Linked DNA regions of Homo sapiens. The protein of the gene in region 1 purifies or fractionates together with the protein of each later gene. This does not show direct contact. Each region holds a gene or a part of one and is shown on either strand. Other genes may lie near its edges. The genes, in order: OTC, NDUFAF7 and MCCC1.

Region 1 (3,657 bases):
AAGGAGCAGAGTGATGGTTTTATCTCAAGACACCTAGGAGAAATGTACATGGTACTTTCAAATTTTTTTTTTTTTTTGAGACAGAGTCTCGCTCTGTCACCCAGGCTGGAGTGCAGTGGCAAAATCTCGGCTGACTGCAACCTCCGCCTCCAGAGCTCAAGCAATTCTCCTGCCTCAGCTTCCTGAGTAGCTGGGACTACAGGCATGTGCCACCATGCCCAGTGAATTTTTGTATTTTTAGTAGAGACGGGATTTCACCATATTGGCCAGGCTGGTTTTAAACTCCTGACCTCAAATGATCCGCCCGCCTCGCCTCTCAAAGTGCTGGGATTACAGGCATGAGCCACCGTGTCTGGCAAGTCTTTTTTTTTTTTTTTTCTTTTTAAATTTAAGAGAGTACCACTTCAAGTTACACCAGTAACTCAGTTTTCTGTTATTCTATTTAGTGGAACAGTAGACCTTTCAGTAAAGAACTCTACTAATGTAATATGTGGCTGATAGCAAAAGTCACCAATTATAGTCCACTATATTTAAAAAGTTGCTTTGGTGTGATAATATTATATTTGGAGCTGATCTCCAAATTATTATTTTTAGCACTTGAAGCATACTCCATCACTAGTTAAAACAATTTAGATAAAGGTAATGAGGTAGGGGTGAATTAAACAGGATTATAAGCACTATGCATTAGATTTTTCATTCTTAATGCAAATGTACTAGCAGTTTTAATTTTCTCCAACAGTTAATTGCTGAAAGTTACATTTCCCTATATATTTCTATTGTTCACATACAGATTCAAAACTACATTCCTTCATACTTTCTTACCTCAAAATTACTGCCTTTGTACTACAATTTTGTTTTACCTCCCACCCAAGCTCTAGGTTCAGGACATTTTGAGTTTCTAAAATACCAGCAAAATTACATGGAAAAAAGTAACATTTATAAATGCCATACATCAACAAAATGACTGTTCTTCAATCCTACAGTTCCAGCACCAGCAACACATATAAGATTGGCCAAGCAAGTGTAAGTATGAAGCAATTTATATAATTTAAAATATCTCCATGAAAATATATTCCACATGATAAGGGATTAGCCATAATATATAAAGAGCTCCTATAACCAATAATAGAAAAGGCAAAAAAATAGAAAATGGGCAAAAAATGTAATAGCAATTTATAGAAAAAAGGGCAATGCCCAATAAACATAAAAAGATGCTTAACTTCATTAGTAATCAAGGAATTGCAAATTTTAACAAAGATGAGGTGCCATTTTTCCTCCAGATTTAGAAAAATTAAAAATGTAAATAAAAGCTAAACATGGAGAGGATATGGAAAAATAACTATAATATACAGCTGCAGCAGTATACATTTTTAATCTTCTTTGGGTAAGCAATTTAGCAGCACTCTCATATTTTAAAAAATTTATACCACTTCACCCCAAAATTCCTCTCCTCAGGATCTTATTCTCCAGTAATATTTGCACAAAGAAATATGGATAAGCAAGTTCATTGCAGCATTTTTGTAATCGGCATTCTCAGAAATAGCCTAATTTATCAATAGGAAACATTTTAAGTAAATTATGGTTCCACTTATCCTTTGGAATTCTATGCAGCAACTAAAAAGAATAAAAAATATCTAAATGAGTGAGCAAGAAAATCTAAGATTTGTTAAGTGGAAAAAGTAAGAATAATAATAAATAAATAAGTAATGTCTAAAATATCATTTACAAAAAAATCAATAGTTATGTGTGTATTGAGGCATACATATGTAAATGCACAGAAAAGGTCTGCAAAGAGACACATCAAATTATTAAACAGAGGCTACCTCTAGGAATAGTCTCTGTTAAAGAGATGGGAGAAAGACATTTTTACTTTTTATTTTTCAAACTTCTGTTCTATTTTATATATAACAATAAAGAACTTGTATTTATGTATTACTTTATCAATATAATATTAATTGTACTTGCTTAATCCCTTTCTCCACCAAAGTAGATTTGTTGCTTTGCTGACAAAACCCCTGTGCATTTGGCTTTCAGGGTATTCCTCCAGAACATTGCTTCTCAAAGTGTGGCCCTGGAGGCAGCAGCACTGCATCACCTGGGAACTTGGTAGAAATGCAGATTCTCAGGTTTCACCCTGACCTACTGAATCAGAAACCCTGGGGGTGGGACCCAGCCAGCTGTGTATTAACAACTCCTCTGGTGATGCTAATACCTGCTCAAGACTGAGAAGCATTGTTCCAGATCTTACTGGAAGACAGCCAAACAGATGAGTCCCCTGGGAATGCCCTGGAGGGCATTAGCAAAACTAAACTGGATTTAGAGGTCCTTGGAAAATAGAGGCAAGGACTAGCCTGAGGAGCATAGTTAAGGGGCTTTTCTTAGGGGAGAAATCATAAGAAACTGCATGCATCAGAAGTAACCTAATTTCTCTAAACACACAAAGAGTAAAACACTGCAATGCCTCGATTCTTGTGAGAGGGAAAAGCCTGCTCCTCTCTTCTCAGTGGGTTTCAAATTCCTTCATCCAGCACAAAAATGCCTTTCCAAAGGACACAGCTAATCTTTGGAAGGAGAGAAGTCCCTAGGGGATACAGTCAGTGAGTCCTTTTATAGGGAATGAAAGGACAGTCTGCTCCCCCTAAAGTGAATAAGTGATTAGATGGTTCTGGCCTTCATGAATGGAATTAATGAACCTTCAGAGAGGCATCAATTTGTACCTTCATTGTAACCTGGTAACCTTGGAAAGCCTGGAGCCGCTTTTTCTTCTCCTCTTCTTGTCCCATGCTTATCCAAGTGTCTGTAATTAATACATTGCCTCCATGCGCTGCTTCCAATGGATCATTTGTCAGCAACAGCTTGGTACCATTCTAGCATACATAAACACGCTGGTTAAATAACTTCATGGGACAGTAAAAGGCAATAATAGCTTTACATGTAAAGAGCATACCTCTTTGGCATACTGCTCTGCCAACTTGGTTACACTAGCATCCGGCTCATAACCCTAAAGGAGGAAGAATTTAAATCTTATTTAGGTAATTTTATTATACATGTTTTCTTAAATATATATTATTTTCTTTTCAATATCGCGTCTCCTTCCCTTTTTCAAGATGTGGTCCCACCATGTTCAGTAGAATATGATTTTTACATCTAGAATTCCAAAACTCAATAGTGCCTTTTGGAATTTAAAGAGACAACCAATTGCCCCAGCTTTCACTATCTCCGACTTCTTTAATCATAAAGGCAAACATAAGGCATGGTGCTTTCTAACTCTTGGAAGCACCTCTTCCGGTTTCCATAATGGCTTAAGAGGATTATATTCAGAAGTGTGCAAATGAATGCATGTTTGTCTATCTTTGCACATGCTATCCTTTCTTGTCTGAAATTCTTTCTTCCACCCATTCCATGTGGATAACTTTTTCAGGTCTCAGTTGAAATGTCCCCTCCTCAGAAAAACCTTCCCTGACCATCCCAGCTAAATACTAACAGCTCCCCCTCCCCCATTACACACCTCTCATTCTTTTGCATTCCCCAGCAAGCCTTTTGAGGGCAGGGTGCTTGTTTTGAAAGGCATTGACAGAACAAATACATTGTTTTTGCTAAGATTATATATTTGTCCGGGATGGTTTGGTGAGGGCAGAGTCAGACTCTGGAGAGGCA
Region 2 (3,657 bases), on another chromosome or scaffold:
CAGGCATGAGCCACCACGCCCAGCCGCATGTTTACTTTTTAAAATAAAATAGAAATATGGCAACTAGCTTTGTAAGTTAAAGGAAACTCAGTTTCACAATAACTTATTAGCTTGAGCACACATTTGCACCAAAGCCAGTCACAACCCTAAAAGTTCTATAATGTTGGTTGTATTATATACAACATGGACTGTTCTTGCTGTGAAAAGATAAAATACTTTGACTTTTGTTACCTGCAGTATATGAAATGTGTTTCCTTTATTTTGATTTCTTGGGCCGACTGAAGGGTAAAATGTCCAAGCTGAAATATCACTGCCAAGCAAGTTCACTAAACCCAGCTACAACGGATGCAAAGGGTTTTGACTGACGTGCATTCCTCTGATATCTTCCACCTTGAAGTCTCTGATGAGGTAGCAAGGCAAAAAAGTTAAATCTCTCTCCCATCTTCTTTGGATTCATTAACATATCATATCCTTGAAGTAACTGCTGCCTCACTGATGGCTCATTTGATTTATCTAAAAGAACCTGAAAAGAAAAAAATTCTTAGCAAAAATAACCAGAAGACAGGATTCCTAGTTACATGCAGCAATACTAATGACTCTCAAATATTCCAATAAAACAGCACTCAAAATGTGACTTCTGATTACCTGCCTGAGAATCATAGAGTACTTATTAAAAATGTAGATTGGTGTGAAACAAACCTAAGGATTTGCATTTTTAACAAATATCCTCAGGGGGTTTGATCTACAGTAAGGTTTAGGTGTTCTCAGAAGAACAGTTAGAAAATTCATACCCATAAACGCAGTTTTCTTAACAAACAAAAACACTATTTGGAAGTCTTAATGCTACCTCCCATGGAGATGCATAAAACTTACCAGACTAGTTACTAAATCCTATACTACCTGAAAAGACTGGAATACCAAGGATTGGCTAACTACAAGAGCATTAAGGCCAGGTGAACATACTATTTAAAGTAATTTTTGAAATACTATGAAAGTACTTAATAACAGTGAAATAAAATAAACCTTACCTTCAGCCGGACATCAATACCCATATTTTTTAAAAATGTGTGTTGTTTTATTGGGCCCAGAGAGGCTACTTTTCCCTGTGCCATTCTTCGCAAATAACTGAAGTCCACATCAGCTGTTAGATCTGCTGTTCCTGGGGCAATTAAGACATCATGAAGCTTGTGGTCGCAAAACCCCTTGAACATAAAGAAATCAGATTTTTGCCCTTTTATGGTTATTAAGATTAAAGAAATGCTATCATATTAAAGTTATTTAATATTTACATTAATGCTTGAGGTGACGGAATAGAGCTCTCATTAATTCTCTAGGCAGGGAACACCTAGGCAGTGTTTTACAAAGTATATGCATCAACCATGCATCAGAATCACCTGAGATACACTACAAACTACTACACAGCCATAAAAAAAAATGAAATCACGTCCTTTTCAGCAACGTAGACATAGCTGGAGGCCATTATCCTAAGTGAATTAATGCAGGGACAAAACCAAATACCACATGTACATCTCACTTAGAGCTAAACACTGGGTACACGTGAACATACTTATGGGAACAAACACTGGTGACTACTAGAGGGGAGACAGGAGGAGGGGAACAAGGGCTGAAAATCTATCTACTGAGTACTATGCTTGCCACCTGGGTGACAGGCTCACTCGTACCCCAAACCTCAGAGTCAATGCAATATACCCATGTAACAAATAACAAACCTGCCTCATGTACCCCCTAAATCTAAAATAAAAGTTGAAATTACTTAAAAAAAAATCACCTGAGAATATATTACTGACCCTAACCAGACCTGGTCAGTCAGAATCCTGGAGGTAAGGCTAGAGAATGAGTATTTTCAACAAACTATCCAGGTTATTTTTAGATAAAGTTAGAAATTAAGAACCACAGACCTAGAAAATGACTAAGAGCATTTAGTTAAATGTTTTTCAATTAAAGTATATTGAATAGAATTGATTATATTCAAAGATCATTAAGAAAGGATGTTTAGGAACAGTGTAAAAGAATACATCTGGAAAGGGAAAAAATGTTGAAAATATGATAGAAAAAGCTAGAATGATTACAGTAGGTAGTTTAAATCTGTAAAGAAGTACCAAAATTTTTCTTGAATGAAGGGGGTTACAGATAGGTTTAAGAATGTGAAGAAAATCTTTCCATTTGTATTATTCAGCTGCTTATCTGGATTTATATAAACATAGGTTCTACAACTAAGGAAGAATGTACACAATTCAGATCCTGTTAAAGGAGGGCTGGACAGTAGACTCAGTGTTAGCAGTAAGAACTAGGGTTAAGGGGAATTACAATAACATGAATTAATGTTAACTATAAAATAATGTAATACAACAATACCAGGCACTGTAGAAATCAAAGCTCTTCAATGGGCTTCAGATCTAACACTGAAATTCTGATAAATCATGTTACTGAATTATACATACTCTGAAGGTATCTGTCTTTGTTCCATCATGACCATAATCAGCAACCAGTGCAGCACCTCCAGTTAATGCAATGCGTTGAGAAAGTTCCTCGATGATAACACCAGCATCAGGACACACTTCAACATGATCCCTTGTTTCGTCATGCTAGTAAAGGGATCATTGCAAGAGTCAAAATGCATCATTCAAAAGAATGACTTCCTTACGGTTTTTCAGGTTTTTCCTCAATGAGCATTTCTTAGTTTTAATAAAAATAAATTCTTAATATGAGTATGTTCTCTACACTCAACTTTTCACCTGACTCCCTTTTTATTATACAAAACTCCTTAGTTCTTTGATGCTATCCCACTTGATATACAAAGACATTTTAATCTCTTTTATAAAAAGGCAAATGCCCTCCCAATCCCCCCAGATGGCCTAGAGCATTATCATTTAATGTAAAATTACTTTTGTATCACAAATCATATAAACACATTCCTCTAGGTTGAAAGCATGGGAAAGGGATTTTTTTTGTCTGCCTAGAACAGTGCCAGGCACATAACAGTCAATGAAAATATTGTGCTGAAAGAACAAATGGTATAAATCCAATAACACGAAGCAGACCCTATTAGACAATTATATTATCATGCCCTCTGTTGTGCCAGAAAGTATCCCAATGATATGCCCTACATCAAGAAACGCTGGCTTATAAACTAGTGCCAATGTATTGAAACCGTTATTACCCCAAGATGTCCACTTAACTAAGGGGCCACAATAAGTGTGTACTAGCTTAAAAAGCAAAATCACACTAAGTATTAACACTTGTCAACCTGACTAGTATATATGAAATTTCACTACTTCCTGATCTGATTGAAAATGTGGTATTTCTTTCCCTTCATTATGAAAACATACATTAACTTGTACTCCTTCCTAACACCTTATTATAGAAATGCAGTAATGACCTGCCCTGATGTCTGCCTATGGTAACAGGCATAGAGTCAGATGAAGTTAAATCTCAGCTCTTCCTATGCTTACTGGTAGACAAGTTACTTAAACTTTCTGAGTTGTTTTCTTCCTTATAGATATTGTAGGTTTATTGTGAGGATTAAATATAACTAACCATTTAGCTAATAGTGCAATCAAATTACTGTGGCTTAACTATAAAAACCATGAAGTCAGCCTCATCAGGCATCAGTGGACACGCTGATCATGCTGACAT
Region 3 (3,657 bases), on another chromosome or scaffold:
CTACACTCCCACCAGCACCATGACAGTTTGCAAATGCCATGGCAACGTCAGGAAGTTACCCTATATGGTCTAAAAAGGGGAGGCAAGAATACTCCACCCCTTGTTTAGCATATCATCAAGAAATAACCATAAAAATGGCAACCAGCAGCCCTTGGGGCTGCTCTGTCTATGGAGTAGCCATTCTTTATTCCTTTACTTTCTTAATAAACTTGCTTTCAATTAAAAAGAAGTTATTACTAGAAATACAGAATAGAAATAGAGTCACACAATGTGCCACACAATGACATTCCATCAATGCCAGACTGCATATAGGATGGTGATTTCATAAGATTATGATAGAGCTGAAAAATTCCTATCATTTAGTGACATAATAGCACAATACATTACCTTTCCTATGTTTTGAGATGTTTAGATACACAAATACTTACCATTGTGTTACAAATGCCTACAGTATTCAATACAGTAACGTTTGTACAGGTTTGTAGCTCAGGAGCAATAGGCTATACCATAGCTTAGGTGTGTAGTTGACTATACTATCTCAGTTTGTGTAAGGACACTCTATGATGTGTGCACAACAATGAAATTGCCTAACAATGCATTTCTCAGAATGTATCTCTGTCATTAAGCAACACATGACTGTATATAAGAATATTAATAATAATTAGGAGAATACAATTATGGGTTGTTTTCCATCTTCTGCATTTTCCAAAAATTTGTAATGTATTCATATTACTTCTATAGTTCAAAAAATATTACTGATGCCTATTACAAGGAAAGTAGTATGCCAGGCAATATATACAAAAAATAAAAATGTATATACTACCAGGTCTTTGATTCCCAGGGGCTTTCCAGCTATTGGGGGAATAAATTATAATGTGACGCAATGTATGGCTAACATTTCATAAGTAAAGAACTTACATATTCAAAAAATGCTGCAGGCATGGAGTTACATAATAACTCAAATAAGCTATTGATGTCTCTGAAATAAGTTACTGAAATAAGCTATTGATGTCTCCACAATTCTAACTTAAGAGCATGCTGATTTGGATGGCTAGCCTATTCTTTCTTGAAAGGAAGCCTTCAATGTACCTTAGAAATGCCCCCCCCTTTTTTTTTGCCTTAATTGAATTTCATTTACTATGCCATGCTCAGGACAGTTGTTTTATAGGGCCTGAAACAAAAAACAATTTGGGGGTCTTCTCTAAGGAGAAGAATACAAAACTGCAAATACAAAATTAGGTCAGGGTCTTGGAAGAGATTAATGTCAAAGAAGGGCCTGAAGTTTCAAGTCTGTTACCTTCAAGGTAAATCTCTTTCCAGTCATGGTTCCCAAATAAATTATTCTTTTCACTTGACTTACAGGTCACACACATATATATATAAAATTTAACAATTGTCATAAAAATCTATGAAATGAGAAACTTTATAATCAGCATCTTAAACAACAAACATGAAAATAAAATTCCAGAAAAAAAAATAGGGATTCACACTGCATTTGCTATAGTGGTACCCAGAGAAGTAGCTTAGTGCAGTGGCTTAGATATGAACTCTGGAGTCAAAGTGCCTGGGTTCAAATCTCAGCTTTACTACTTAACAGCTGAGTGACCTCAGAAAAGTAACACAACACAACCATTCTGTTGCTTAGTGTCCTCACCTGTAAAATGAAAACAGTACTTACCTAATGAGGTTGTTGTAAGAATTATATTAGAATTAGAAGGACAGCAAGATTATTTAGCATGTGTAAAATATTTAAAATCTGGCACATGGTAAGTGCAATGTAAGTGTTAGCTCCTATTAACAGCATATCACTTGTAATTCAATTTAGAAAATTACTTCCATTTCCTGAGCATCTCAACTGACAGAGTTCTATAAATATAGCTGAATTTATTACAATAATTTGCTAATATTGAAAAAAAACCCTAAATTTCATCAACAAGAAACATACTGAATGAATTAATGGTATATCAAGATCATAGAACCGCTAGGTCACCAACAAAAAGAATGAGGCTGATCTACAATTACTGACATGGAAAGATGTCTGTGATATAATATTAGTGTATAAGATTCTATTCACTGGCCGGGCACAGTGGCTCACGCCTGTAATCCCAGCACTTTGGGAGGCTGAGGCAGGTGGATCACGAGGTCAGGAGTTTGAGACCTGCCTGACCAACATGGGAAAACCCCATCTCTACTAAAAACACAAAAATTAGCCAGGCATGGTGGGGCATACCTGTAATTCCAGCTACTTAGGAGGCTGAGGCAGGACAATCGCTTGAACTCGGGAGGCAGAGGTTGCAATGAGCCGAGATCGTGCCACTGCACTCCAGCCTGGGCAACTGAATGAGAGACTCCGTCCAAAAAAAAAAAAAAATTCTATTCACTGTTCTTAGGTATGTATTTTGTTTGCTGTATGTATATGTATATAGGTTTCTATTCACATAGAAAATGGCTGGAAGAATGCATACCATCCTACAATCAGTGGTTACATCACAGGACAGAACTGGGAAACTTGTAATAATATACTTATATACTACTACAGTTTTATATTTTATAGAATGTGCATGCATTATTTTTATAATTTAATTTTTAAACTCTGAGTCAGAAAAATAAGGCCAACCCACCTCGGTGTGTCTACAAACTTCTCGATCAGCATAGCATCATCATTGAAAGACTTCTTAGCTTCTCTCCGTGCTGACTCTAACTGTTCTTGAAATTCTTGTTCTGATCTAACAATCCTCATTCCCTAAGAGAGAAAAGATGATTATGACTACAACATAAATAAAACAAAGAAGACAAGCCTGAATTGGCAAACACAAGCATGCACAATCTTACTTTTCCTCCTCCACCCCGGACGGCTTTAATCATGACAGGATAGCCAATTCTCCTGGCGTGTTCCTTCAGGCACTGGTCTGATTGGTCCTCACCATGATAACCCTCCACAACAGGTACTCCAGCAGCAGCCATTATGGATTTGGATGTGCTTTAGAGTGGGAAAGAAAACAACATGCCCCAAATTCTACAAATTATTTCATTCAAGACAAACATAAATATAGCCCAGTCTATAAATTACAATGGAACTCTTTAAAGAAAACATCGAGTCTGAGACGACAAAATAATACAAATTTAATATGTCTATTAGTTAGTTTCCCTCATTTCATGTGGTAGCTCATCTCACCCTATTTTTTAATCCCAAAATACTAATATATTGATTAGAAACATTAAGTATTTTCTGTAACTCAATAGAATTTCTCTATGTCACAGATAAATAACTTATGCCTATGACAACAGAAGGGTAGAATTAAAATATTATAGGTAAAACAAACTATTTCTTTTTTTTTTTTAGAGACAGGGTCTCACAATGTTGCCCATGCCAGAGTGCAGTGGTGCAATTATACTTCACTACAGCCTTAAACTTCTGAGCTCAAGTGATCCTTCTGCCTCAGCCTCCTAAGCAGCTGGGACTACAGGTGTGTGTCACCATACCCAGCTGAATTTTTTTTTTTTTTTTTGAGATGGGGTCTTACTCTGTCACCCAGACTGAAGTATGATGGTGTGATCACAGCTCACTGCAGCCTTGATCTCCTGGGCTCAAGCAATCCTCCCACCTCAGCCTCCCAAGATGCTGGACCCACAGGCACGTGCCACCATGCCTGGAAT

What was found.
Region 2: the proteins of OTC (region 1) and NDUFAF7 purify together in Homo sapiens (affinity purification with mass spectrometry; one large-scale study listed by BioGRID and IntAct). This does not show direct contact.
Region 3: the proteins of OTC (region 1) and MCCC1 purify together in Homo sapiens (affinity purification with mass spectrometry; one large-scale study listed by BioGRID and IntAct). This does not show direct contact.

Annotation. Positions count from the first base shown.
Region 1 is NC_000023.11:38,408,086-38,411,742, reverse strand, and holds part of OTC (ornithine transcarbamylase, mitochondrial precursor), read right to left. Parts: intron 3,002-3,657; coding exon 2,948-3,001; intron 2,868-2,947; coding exon 2,718-2,867; intron 1-2,717. UniProt on the Homo sapiens protein: Catalyzes the second step of the urea cycle, the condensation of carbamoyl phosphate with L-ornithine to form L-citrulline. The urea cycle ensures the detoxification of ammonia by converting it to urea for excretion.
Region 2 is NC_000002.12:37,245,001-37,248,657, reverse strand, and holds part of NDUFAF7 (protein arginine methyltransferase NDUFAF7, mitochondrial), read right to left. Parts: intron 2,607-3,657; coding exon 2,463-2,606; intron 1,203-2,462; coding exon 1,029-1,202; intron 524-1,028; coding exon 308-523; 3' UTR 1-307. UniProt on the Homo sapiens protein: Arginine methyltransferase involved in the assembly or stability of mitochondrial NADH:ubiquinone oxidoreductase complex (complex I).
Region 3 is NC_000003.12:183,068,378-183,072,034, forward strand, and holds part of MCCC1 (methylcrotonoyl-CoA carboxylase subunit alpha, mitochondrial isoform 1 precursor), read right to left. Parts: intron 2,981-3,657; coding exon 2,833-2,980; intron 2,744-2,832; coding exon 2,622-2,743; intron 1-2,621.